3 separate regions of the Homo sapiens genome follow, and regions 1 and 3 are each reported to be linked to region 2. The links are microRNA targets in miRTarBase. Many come from high-throughput screens and were not tested one by one. Region 2 holds a microRNA gene; each other region holds the end of a gene's coding sequence. Distances are between the middles of the regions.

The links. Region 2 holds the annotated microRNA hsa-miR-3922-5p (UCAAGGCCAGAGGUCCCACAGCA, at 2,061-2,083, shown strand). A microRNA usually pairs through its seed, bases 2 to 8, with sites in the 3' UTR of a target mRNA and lowers its output. Matches are read on the target gene's strand: a 7mer-m8 pairs with bases 2 to 8, a 7mer-A1 pairs with bases 2 to 7 and ends in A, and an 8mer does both.
Region 1: miRTarBase lists RNF24 as a target of hsa-miR-3922-5p. Seed matches in the 3' UTR shown: 7mer-m8 at 591-597.
Region 3: the mRNA of CLSTN3 is a reported target of hsa-miR-3922-5p. Seed matches in the 3' UTR shown: 7mer-m8 at 1,971-1,977.

Annotation. Positions count from the first base shown.
Region 1 is chr20:3,931,528-3,934,603 of GRCh38, forward strand. RNF24 (ring finger protein 24) reads right to left here. Exons shown (of 6, transcript NM_001134337.3): 6 at 1-2,674. The coding sequence ends at 2,536. Among named protein-coding and RNA genes, the nearest start is that of MIR103B2, 16 kb to the left of the region's middle.
Region 2 is chr12:104,589,585-104,592,660 of GRCh38, forward strand. It overlaps MIR3922 (microRNA 3922), which reads left to right and starts at 2,049; the gene lies at 2,049-2,132. The region is part of intron 1 of CHST11 (carbohydrate sulfotransferase 11); the gene reads left to right.
Region 3 is chr12:7,157,711-7,160,786 of GRCh38, reverse strand. It overlaps CLSTN3 (calsyntenin 3), which reads right to left. Exons shown (of 18, transcript NM_014718.4): 18 at 1,842-2,846. The coding sequence ends at 2,706. Among named protein-coding and RNA genes, the nearest start is that of CLSTN3, 29 kb to the right of the region's middle.

The sequences.
Region 1 (3,076 bases), not on the chromosome of region 2:
GACCCAGATGCAGGGAGCAAATATTCGGGTTGTGTTGCTAAGAGTCGCAGGAACTACTGCTAGTGATACTAGGCTTGCTGCAGGAGGATGTCACGCTGAGAAAGGGAGATGACTAGGAGCAGAAAAAGTACTCTCACTGTTCCAGCTTCCAGCCCAATCCTAGCAGAATGAATGCATTTTAAAACCAGTCCACATTCACATGTGCTGAGAAGGTTGTTAGTGGTCCCTCATCTGGGCAAAGCAGACCCAAGGTGGTGCTGAGTGCAGAGTGCAGAGCATTCTTGTGCTCTCCTCTCATGGCTGGAACTATCTGGGCTTTGCGCCCTGGTCCAGTGCTACGTATCAACCCCCTCAACATGCCTGTGGCTCTGACACGGGGGGATGAATTAACTTGCCTCTGTTCAAATATACAGACTTGGTGAGGCTGTCTTTTGTTAGTACTGATGCACAGGGACAGAAAAAGCCTGCAACTTTCAGTTGGGAGAATCCTATAAAAGCTGTGAGCAGCAATAATTTGCAGTATTGATCATAGGAAGGGAAAAAACATTCTCTTTCCTATTAGAGCCCCATAACAGAGGTGACATCTGTCCCAAGGCCATTCCATGGAAAATGGTGGCTGCTGGCAATTAGTGAGGCTAGTCCAGAAGCAAGCCTCCTTCTGATATTGGTCACTGAAAACAGCTCACTATAAACGGGGTGTTTTGTGGCATTCAACTCTGTTGTGCTACAAATAGAGAATGCAAAAAGACGGTGAAAGTAGGAGTGCATAAATAGTTTTTTTCATGGGTGCCAGACAGGCTAAGGCTTTCATATAAAAATATTCCTCACTTTCCTCGTCCTGTTTAGGAAGCAGTCCAGTTGGCATACCACGAATAGGTCACACATAGGAAATGGCCTATTTTGACCAACTGGATTTGTAATTTTCCAAACCGGATTCTGTCCAGCACTGTTCTACACTAATGGAAATTTTCCTCCTCATGCCCAGCCATCTGAACCAAGGACAGGTTCCTTCTCCTAAGAGGACAGAGGTTGGATTCCAGAAAAAAATCCTGGAGTCATGCCAAGAGCAGAGTAGCAAAGCTCCCTCCATCCATTCTCCATGTCACGCAGACTGTATTCCTAATGAAAAACTTCCCCCACTCACACCTGTGGGATGGAGTGGAGCAAAGCAGTTGACGAGGAATTGAGGCAGGCGCTCCTAAGATGGAGGGAGGCGGAGAGCAGGGCTGTGGAAAAGAATTTTCCATCTGACCTGCTACTTTCCATAGCTAATTTATACAATATTCACAAATCTTAATGGACTTTGAGTCATTTCTAGAAAAGTTGGACAGAAAGAGCCAAAGAGCAGCATGCGTTTCTCTCCTATAAAGACACTTTCACTTTCAGTTTCGGAAGTCCAAATACTGAGGCACACACCAACGGTGGACAGCCCTGCAGGAGCTTCCTGAAACTATCTACAATTCCAAGTGGATCACCAGCTTCAGAATTACACAGGGATCTTATTTGGGATAAAGTGTTAAAAAGTGAATGACAGGCTTTTTTTTTTTTTTTTTTTTTTTTCTGAAGTAGAAAGAGAGATAGGGCAAGAGAGAGAAGAGATGGAAGGAGGGGGAGAGGCCAAAGGGTCGGCATTCCCTTCATCCAGCCGGGCCAGAAGTATGGGCCATTCTCAAAAAGCCACTGCTCTTTGGAGCCACTCGAGAGGTTCACAGTGGCTCCCTTCTGAGGCAGTGGCAGTGGGCTCACAGCAGCTACACTGGAACCACAGTGCACATGTGGGGATGTGGGCAGCCTCCTGGATCACTCAGGGACAGTGTGGACTCAGGGCCCACTCCCTGCTGGGGCTCTGGACGGGCCTTACTGGTGCATAGGAGAGGGAAATGATAAGAGGAAATGGCTTCTGACTAGGCCTTTCCAAGCGCATCTCATGTTTTCAGCTTAGATGATTTGATAGCAGGTGTTGTAATCCTGAGGGGGAAATGGGTGACGAGGAACACTGCTACTCAAAGCCAAGATGGCCTTATCAAAGGCATACAACATGAGCCTTGTGGGCACTGCCTCACCAACCACTGGTGGCTGGTTGTGCTGGTTTTACTTGGCTCAAGGGCTGCTGGGAAGGTTTGCTGCGACAAAGGCCTGCATGGCCTACAGAGAAACCCATCCATCCGCAGGTGGGGGTGTGGCTTGAAAGACCTGCTCTTAGTTCCCTTCTTTACCCTCCTGCTTGACATGGAGATGAGGCTCCAGGAGAGAGAGTGTAATGGAGTTAGTAAGAGACCCTCATGAAGTTTCTTGAGGCAAACCCGCAGGCTCATCCACTCCTCTTCTCTCGGCAGGGGGTAGTGTCAAAGTGCTTTGGTTGTCACAAGACCCAGACACCTAGGTTCCCAGTTTGGCTGGCCCAAGAGTTCTTCATGAGGCAAAAGAAGTGGCAGCTGGTGTCCTAGGTAGAGAGCAGCCATACAGACACCACATGTGTTCCTCCTGGCTCCACACAGACGTCGTGTCCAGCAACAGTCTGATCCTTGCGGTAAGCTATACAATGTTCTCTGCCCCAGGAAGGGGCCCCTGAGGGGGTCCACGGTCCTGCTTACTGTGCAACTGGGCCAGCTGTAGAACTGGCATGTTGCACAGGGGACACACTTTACGAACCTCCAGCCACTTAATAAGGCACCTGCAGAAGGAGACACCACAGGGGGAAGATGTCAGTCCTATGCTCATGGCACGGCTGTTCTGCTGAACATCTCCATATCTGTCACCCAGACAACGTCTGCTGTATGGTCCAAGGAGCTCCCCTCCTAGGTGGTGAACGGATGTCACCCCCTGGAGAGAGGGAAGAGACAGAGAGAAGGAGTGGGGAGAGGCCAAGGGGTCAGCAATCCCCTCTTCCTTCCAGAGCCTCCCATCTTCCACGTGTGAAGCCACAGATAGTATGTGATACTCTCAGTTACCCATGACTTCTTACAAGAACAAAATACACTGAGCAGGGATGTGAGAAGTAGGAAAATAAATTTTTCTAACAGAAATACAAAACAAAAAATTATAAGAGGAAGAATATTAATATGTCTGCAGGAAG
Region 2 (3,076 bases):
AAATGGTAAATTTTATGTTATGTGTATTTTATCACAATAACAAAAAAGCAAAACTGCAGTTGTATTATTTCTTGCCTTGAAGAACTTATTCAAGGGTTCTGGTTTGACTACAGAATCAAATGAATGCTTTTTCGGTTTGGCCTCAAATCCTTTTCTGGGATGACTTAAAGTTCCCAGCACTTTGGGAGGCTGAGGCAGGCGGATCACCTGAGGTCAGGAGTTCAAGACCAGCGTGGTCAACATGGTGAAACCCCGTCTCTACGAAAATACAAAAATTAGCTGGGCGTGGTGGCACATGCCTGTAATCCCAGCTACTCGGGAGGCTGAGGCAGGAGAATTGCTTGAATCCGGGAGGAGGAGGCTGCAGTGAGCCAAGATGGCGCCACTGCACTCCAGCCTGGGCAACAAAGCGAGACTCTGTCTCAAAATTAAATAAATAAATAAATAAATAAATGAAGATGCCTCACCCTAGCTGGCCCGTCCCTTGGCTATTAGGTGCCGCATGACCCTTGTAAGTACCTACACCCAGGCCCCTGGCCTCGTTGGCCCCATCTGGCACAGTTTCTCCCCCTCCTCTTCTCCAGATGGCCTGCACGTGCGCTGTCTATGTGCGCACCTGTTCCTCATGTCTAGCTGATCCAGCATCCCCAGACTCTTCCAAGATACAAATCCCCTGGGGTGCTCATCAAGCTTGAAGCTTCCCAGGCCCCTTTGTAGGAGAATCTGATTCAGAAGGGCTGGGAATATATGTTTTTTAAATAAGTACCTCGGATGACTCTTATCAGGAAAGTTTAGAAGACCTTGGACTGGGGTGACTGTATTTCAAAACGGTTTAGTTTCCTGTCTTTTGGGAAAGGCACTTCCATTCATTCATTTATTCATTCAGCCCTGAATTTAGGCCCCTTTTAGGAACCGAGGATATTGTGATAGACAAGACAGTCCAAGTCCTTTTGCTCATGAAACTTAGGGTCTCGTGGTGGCAACAGACAACAGCCAATAAAGCATTTAAGATAAAAAGACAGGAGAGAATCAATGCCTTGAAGAAGCATATGGCAGGCGGGGCGCAGTGGCTCATGCCTGTAATCCCAGCACTTTGGGAGACTGAGGCGGGCAGATCACTTGAAGCCAGGAGTTCAAGACCAGCCTGGCCAACATGGTGAAACCCTGTGTACTTAAAAATGCCAAAAATTAGCTGGACATGGTGGCACACGCCTGTAATCCCAGCTACTTGGGAGGCTGAGGCACAAGAATTGCTCGAACATGGGAGGTGGGGGTTGCAGTGAGCCAATATCGCACCACTTTACTCCAGCCTGGGTGAGAGAACGAGACCCTGTCTTAAAAAAAAAAAAGAATATAGCAAAGAATGGGAGGAACAGGAGAGAGAGGAAGTGAGGCCATGGGAGACAGTGTGTCCAGGGAAGCTCTCTCTGGGGACCTGATGATGCGGTCAGAGGGCAGAGTAAAGAAGAGAACAGTTGTTGGTGTTGGGAGAGGGACTCCAGGCTGACAGAGCAGTGAGTGCAAAGGCCCTGAGGCTCATGCTTGGTTTTTTGGAGAAAGAGCAAGATGACCAGTATGGTGGAGGAGGGGCAGAGGCAGGCGGGGCTATATCATGGGGGGCCTCTGGGCCGTGGAAAGACTTTGGATTTTGTTCTAAGATGGTGGCAGGTCTTTGGAGCAGGAAGGCTGTTATGATCTGATTTACGTTTCTAGAAGATTATTCTGGCCGCTGGTAGAGAATAGAGTAGGGAGGCCAGGGTGGCAGCAGGGATACCAGTTAAGAGGTTTTTGTCATAGCCCAAGGGGAAGGCGATGATGGCTTGTACCAGGGCGGTGAGGACAGAGACATGCTGATGGGTGGGGCATAGCAGACAGAAAAGGGAATTTAAGAAAATTCCTCACTGTTTGGTCACAGCTAGGGGCATGATGGTGGCATCCACTGTGATGGTGAACATTGTGGGAGGGAAATTTTAGCTGTGGAAGCCATGAGTTCTCTTTATCAATGTTTAACATATTCCATTCATAAGCACCCTCAAATTGAACTTAAAGGAAGAGTCAAGTCAAGGCCAGAGGTCCCACAGCAGGGCTGGAAAGCACACCTGTGGGACTTCTGGCCTTGACTTGACTCTTTCCAGATATCTGAGTCAGACGTTTTCAAAGCATGCACCATGACCCACGGGTGTGTTGTAAAATGGATTTAATGAGTTGTGACTAGTAGTTCATAAAAGAACAATAGAAAATGTTAGTTTGTCACACATAGTAAGGATAGTACTTTTAAAATAAAACTTGTCTCGGTTTTCTATATATATTTGTATGTAAATCACATGCAAAAAGAGAAAGGGATGAGGCCAGGAATCAGGAGATCTTCATTTTAGCTGCAACTCGGCCTATAGCCAGCAGTGTGTCCTTGGACAGATCACCTTCTATCCTGCACGTCCATTTCTTTACCTGCAAAATGGGGTTAGGGATGAGGTGGTTTAATCTTTTAATACCTGGCACCTCCTCCCCTCCCCTCCCCTCTTCTCCCCTCCTCTCCCCTCCCATCTCCTCTCCTCCCTTCCCCTTCTCTCCCTTACTCTCCCTTTCTCTCTTCTCCCTTCCCGTCTCTCATGCTCTCAGTGGGTGGGCAGCATACCCCACTGGCCAGGAGGATTATGTTTGAGGTTTGTGTCTTAATCTGTTCAGGGTGCTACAACAAAATACCATAAACTGGGTGGCTTATACACAACAGAAATTTATTCCTCACAGTTCTGGAGGCTGGGAAGTCCAAGACCAAAGCATTGGCAGATTTGGTGTCTGGTGAGGCCCTGCTTTCTGGTTCATAGACAGTCCCTTCTTGCTATGTCCTCACATGGTGGAGGGGGTAAGTGGTCTTTTTTGGGACGTCTTTTATAAGGGCACTAATTCCATTTAAGAGGGCTCTACCCCCATGACCAAATCACCTTCCAAAGTCCCCACCCTCTAAAATGATTATCTTGGGGGTTAATATTTTAACATGAATTTTAGTGGGGACACAAACATCCAGATTATAGCACTTTGCGTCCTGCCATTTCTCTTGCTCAGTCAGAATCAGTTT
Region 3 (3,076 bases), 97 Mb from region 2:
GCTCCCAGAGCACAGCAGAACTCCTGGTAGAGGCAACTCTTGAACCGGGTCTTCAGTGATAGTAGAAGACTGCCAGGCACACAATGGGTAAGGGACATGCCAGGCAGAGGGAACAGTACATGCAGACACAGAGGCGAGAAAGCAGGGTGTGTGTGGGAAGCATATGTGATTTCTGTGACCCCACCGCAGGGGTGCAGGGGTGGTGGCCGCAAAGAGGCCAGAGAAGGAGGAAGGCAGGACCTGCCCCACCTGGTTAAGGGGCTAAGGCGTCAGGACTTGACCTAGGCCTGACAAGGAGGTAGGAAAGTTGCTCTACCGGAGAGTGGTCCAACCAGAGTTGCACTTGAGAAAGGCCACTGAGATCCAGAGTTGAGGACGGGGTGGAGTAGAGCAAGGCATAGGAGACGAGGACAGGTGGAAGGCAGGTGCGAGGCAGGTGGGAGGCAGGTGGGAGGCAGGTGGGAGGACAGGTGGGAGGCAGGTGGGAGGAGAGGTGGGAGGCAGGTGGGAGGCAGGCGGGAGGACAGGTGGGAGGCAGGTGGGAGGAGAGGTGGGAGGACAGGTGGGAGGACAGGTGGGAGGCAGGTGGGAGGCAGGTGGGAGGCTCTTGCCACAGACCAGGCAAAAACACAGAGGGTACAGGTCAAGGCGGCGGCAGCAATAAGGGGAATAGAAAGCAAAAGACCTATTGGAGAGATTTTTAAGGGGTAAGAACGACAGGGTTTCATCACCATTTGGCCATGGGGTTGAGGGAGAGGGAGGAATCTAGACTGACTCTCAGATTTCTGGCATAGGCGAATGGGTGAAAGGTGATAGGGATAGGTCACAGAGAAGTCGGGGAAAGGTGGAGTCTGAGGCACAGGAAGGGCAGGTGGATATGCCAATAGGTAGTTGCAAATGTGAGTTAGGAGAGAGATTCAGGTGGGAGATAAAAATATGGAGGCATCAACATGCAACTGGGAGTTTGCGGCCATGGGCAAGGACAAGGCACCCGGTGGATGTCAGAACGGGCGTCAGGCGGAGCACCCACCTCCACCCCAACTGTGCTACAGGCAGCCGCAGAGAACCAGGAAGAGCCTAAGGATGCCCTACTCTGTCATGCTGCAGGAAGGAACTAAGACTTGGATCCCTGGTATTTCTTGGGCCAGGACAGCACCAGAGGGATGCTCCCACCAGCAGTTCACTCTTCTGAAATAACCCCTTGGGGTTATCATCCTTTATCACCTGGGGCTTAAGTAAGACCTGGGTCAGAGAACTAGTGGCCCAAAAGGCTGCAGAAGGGCCAGACTCTGCCTGCTGTCAGGCCAGGGGCTGGGCCCGAGTGGAGAGGGCGGAGGCCACTAAGCAGCCATGTGAGGCAGCCACAAGGACATGGGCAAGGCAGGCAGACATCCCCTGGGTCTGAGCCTTGGCTAGCAGGAAAGGGTCAGCCTGGGAACAGTCTCCAGATCCCTTTGGTACAAACAGCAGGGTTGCCTGCCTTCTCCCTGGGGCCGCCCAGCAGGGAGCCCATGTGCACAGGCAAAATGTTCCAAGTTGTGGGGCGGGGTTGGCAGCACCCCTGCAAGGCACTGGGCATCTGCCCAGGTGTCCATAGCATTCCCTGAATCTTCTGTACTTTTCCAGGGGGTGCTGAAGGAAGGGAGGCGTGGGAACCATCTGCCCCCAGCTTACTTTCCAGGTGATCTGGCATCCTGGGGACTTACCTGGTCAGGCCCCCAAGATCACCAGCCCTGCCCACCTCACTTCAGCTCTGTGCAGAGACCCAAACAGCCCCTGAGGCCCCAGAGCCTCCACCACACCCACACAGGACCAGGCAGTCAGGAGGCGCCTCACAGAGCTTTTTTTTTTTTTCTGATTGTTTTATTTGAAAACCCTAGGATATGTCCCCTCCCTCACCACACCCAACCCCCCGCCCCTGCCCCAGGACATGACGATGCCTCACACACACACACACACACACATACACACAAGGCCGTGAGCTGCACGCAGGAACATGGGCTGCACTCACGACAACATTGAAAAAATATACATTATATATGTACACCCGGGGCCCCCACGTCCCCTCCCGTCCCCGCAGCCTGGCCACACCAGGTCACGGAGGAGGGGCCGGGGCTGCAGGACCTCAGGACTGCAAGGGCAGGAAGGGAAACAGGACAAGAAAGGAAGGAAGTTGGAAAGGAGGGAGAAATGGGGTCCCCAGACTGAAATGGAAATGAGGTGGGGCGATCATAAGAGAAGCAGGGACGATGGTCCAGCTGAGGGAGCCCTGCAGAGGGGGAAAAGCTTCCCATGGACAGGAGAGAGAAGGGAAGGGGAGAGGAGAGGGTTTCCTTCAATCCCACCCCCAGCCCCAGCCCCAGCCATTGCAATCGTCACCCTCTCCCCAACACAGTGAGTGCTAAGGGGGCAGCTGCCATTGGGGGTAGAAAGGCAGCTGAAGTCCAGCCCACTTTCCAACCCAGCCAGCCCCAGTGCAAGGGGCACACCAGGAGCATGACAGCCCAGAAGTGAGGGATGGGGGGCCGGGGGAGGGGCAGGGCGGACTCCAGAGGGCCCGCTGGGGTTTTGAAATGAAAGGAGGACTGGTTCTGAAGCCTCTCTCCCTCTTGGTCTCTGTGTTCCCAGAAAGTCCTTCTCCCATGTCTGGAGTGTCTGTTTCACCAGGGCAGAATTCCCCCTCTGCGTGGGGAGAGGTGTAGGCCTTAGTAGCGGTGTGGGGGGGTCTCGATGATGCGTCTCTCGTCGCTGCTGGGGGAATCGGCCACCTCCGAGTCACTGCTGTCCTCATCCTCCTGCTGGCCCCCAACAGCCCCCGTCACACAGGACTGCCGATTCTGGTAGGACTGGAGGGCAGGAACAGAGAGGAGAAGGGATCAATGGCCTGCACACATCCCAGCCTCTCTTTCAGGGACCACACTTCCCTCGGTCCCCTTAACCCCTGTGTACCCCCTTCCCTGCCTGAACCTCTCTCCCTCCGGCTCACTGCAGCTCTGCGAACAGCCTCCACCCAGGCCTGCCCCTCCTCAGGAGTCCTCACCGTGTGTGCTCCACAGTCTTGACCCTACAGAACCCC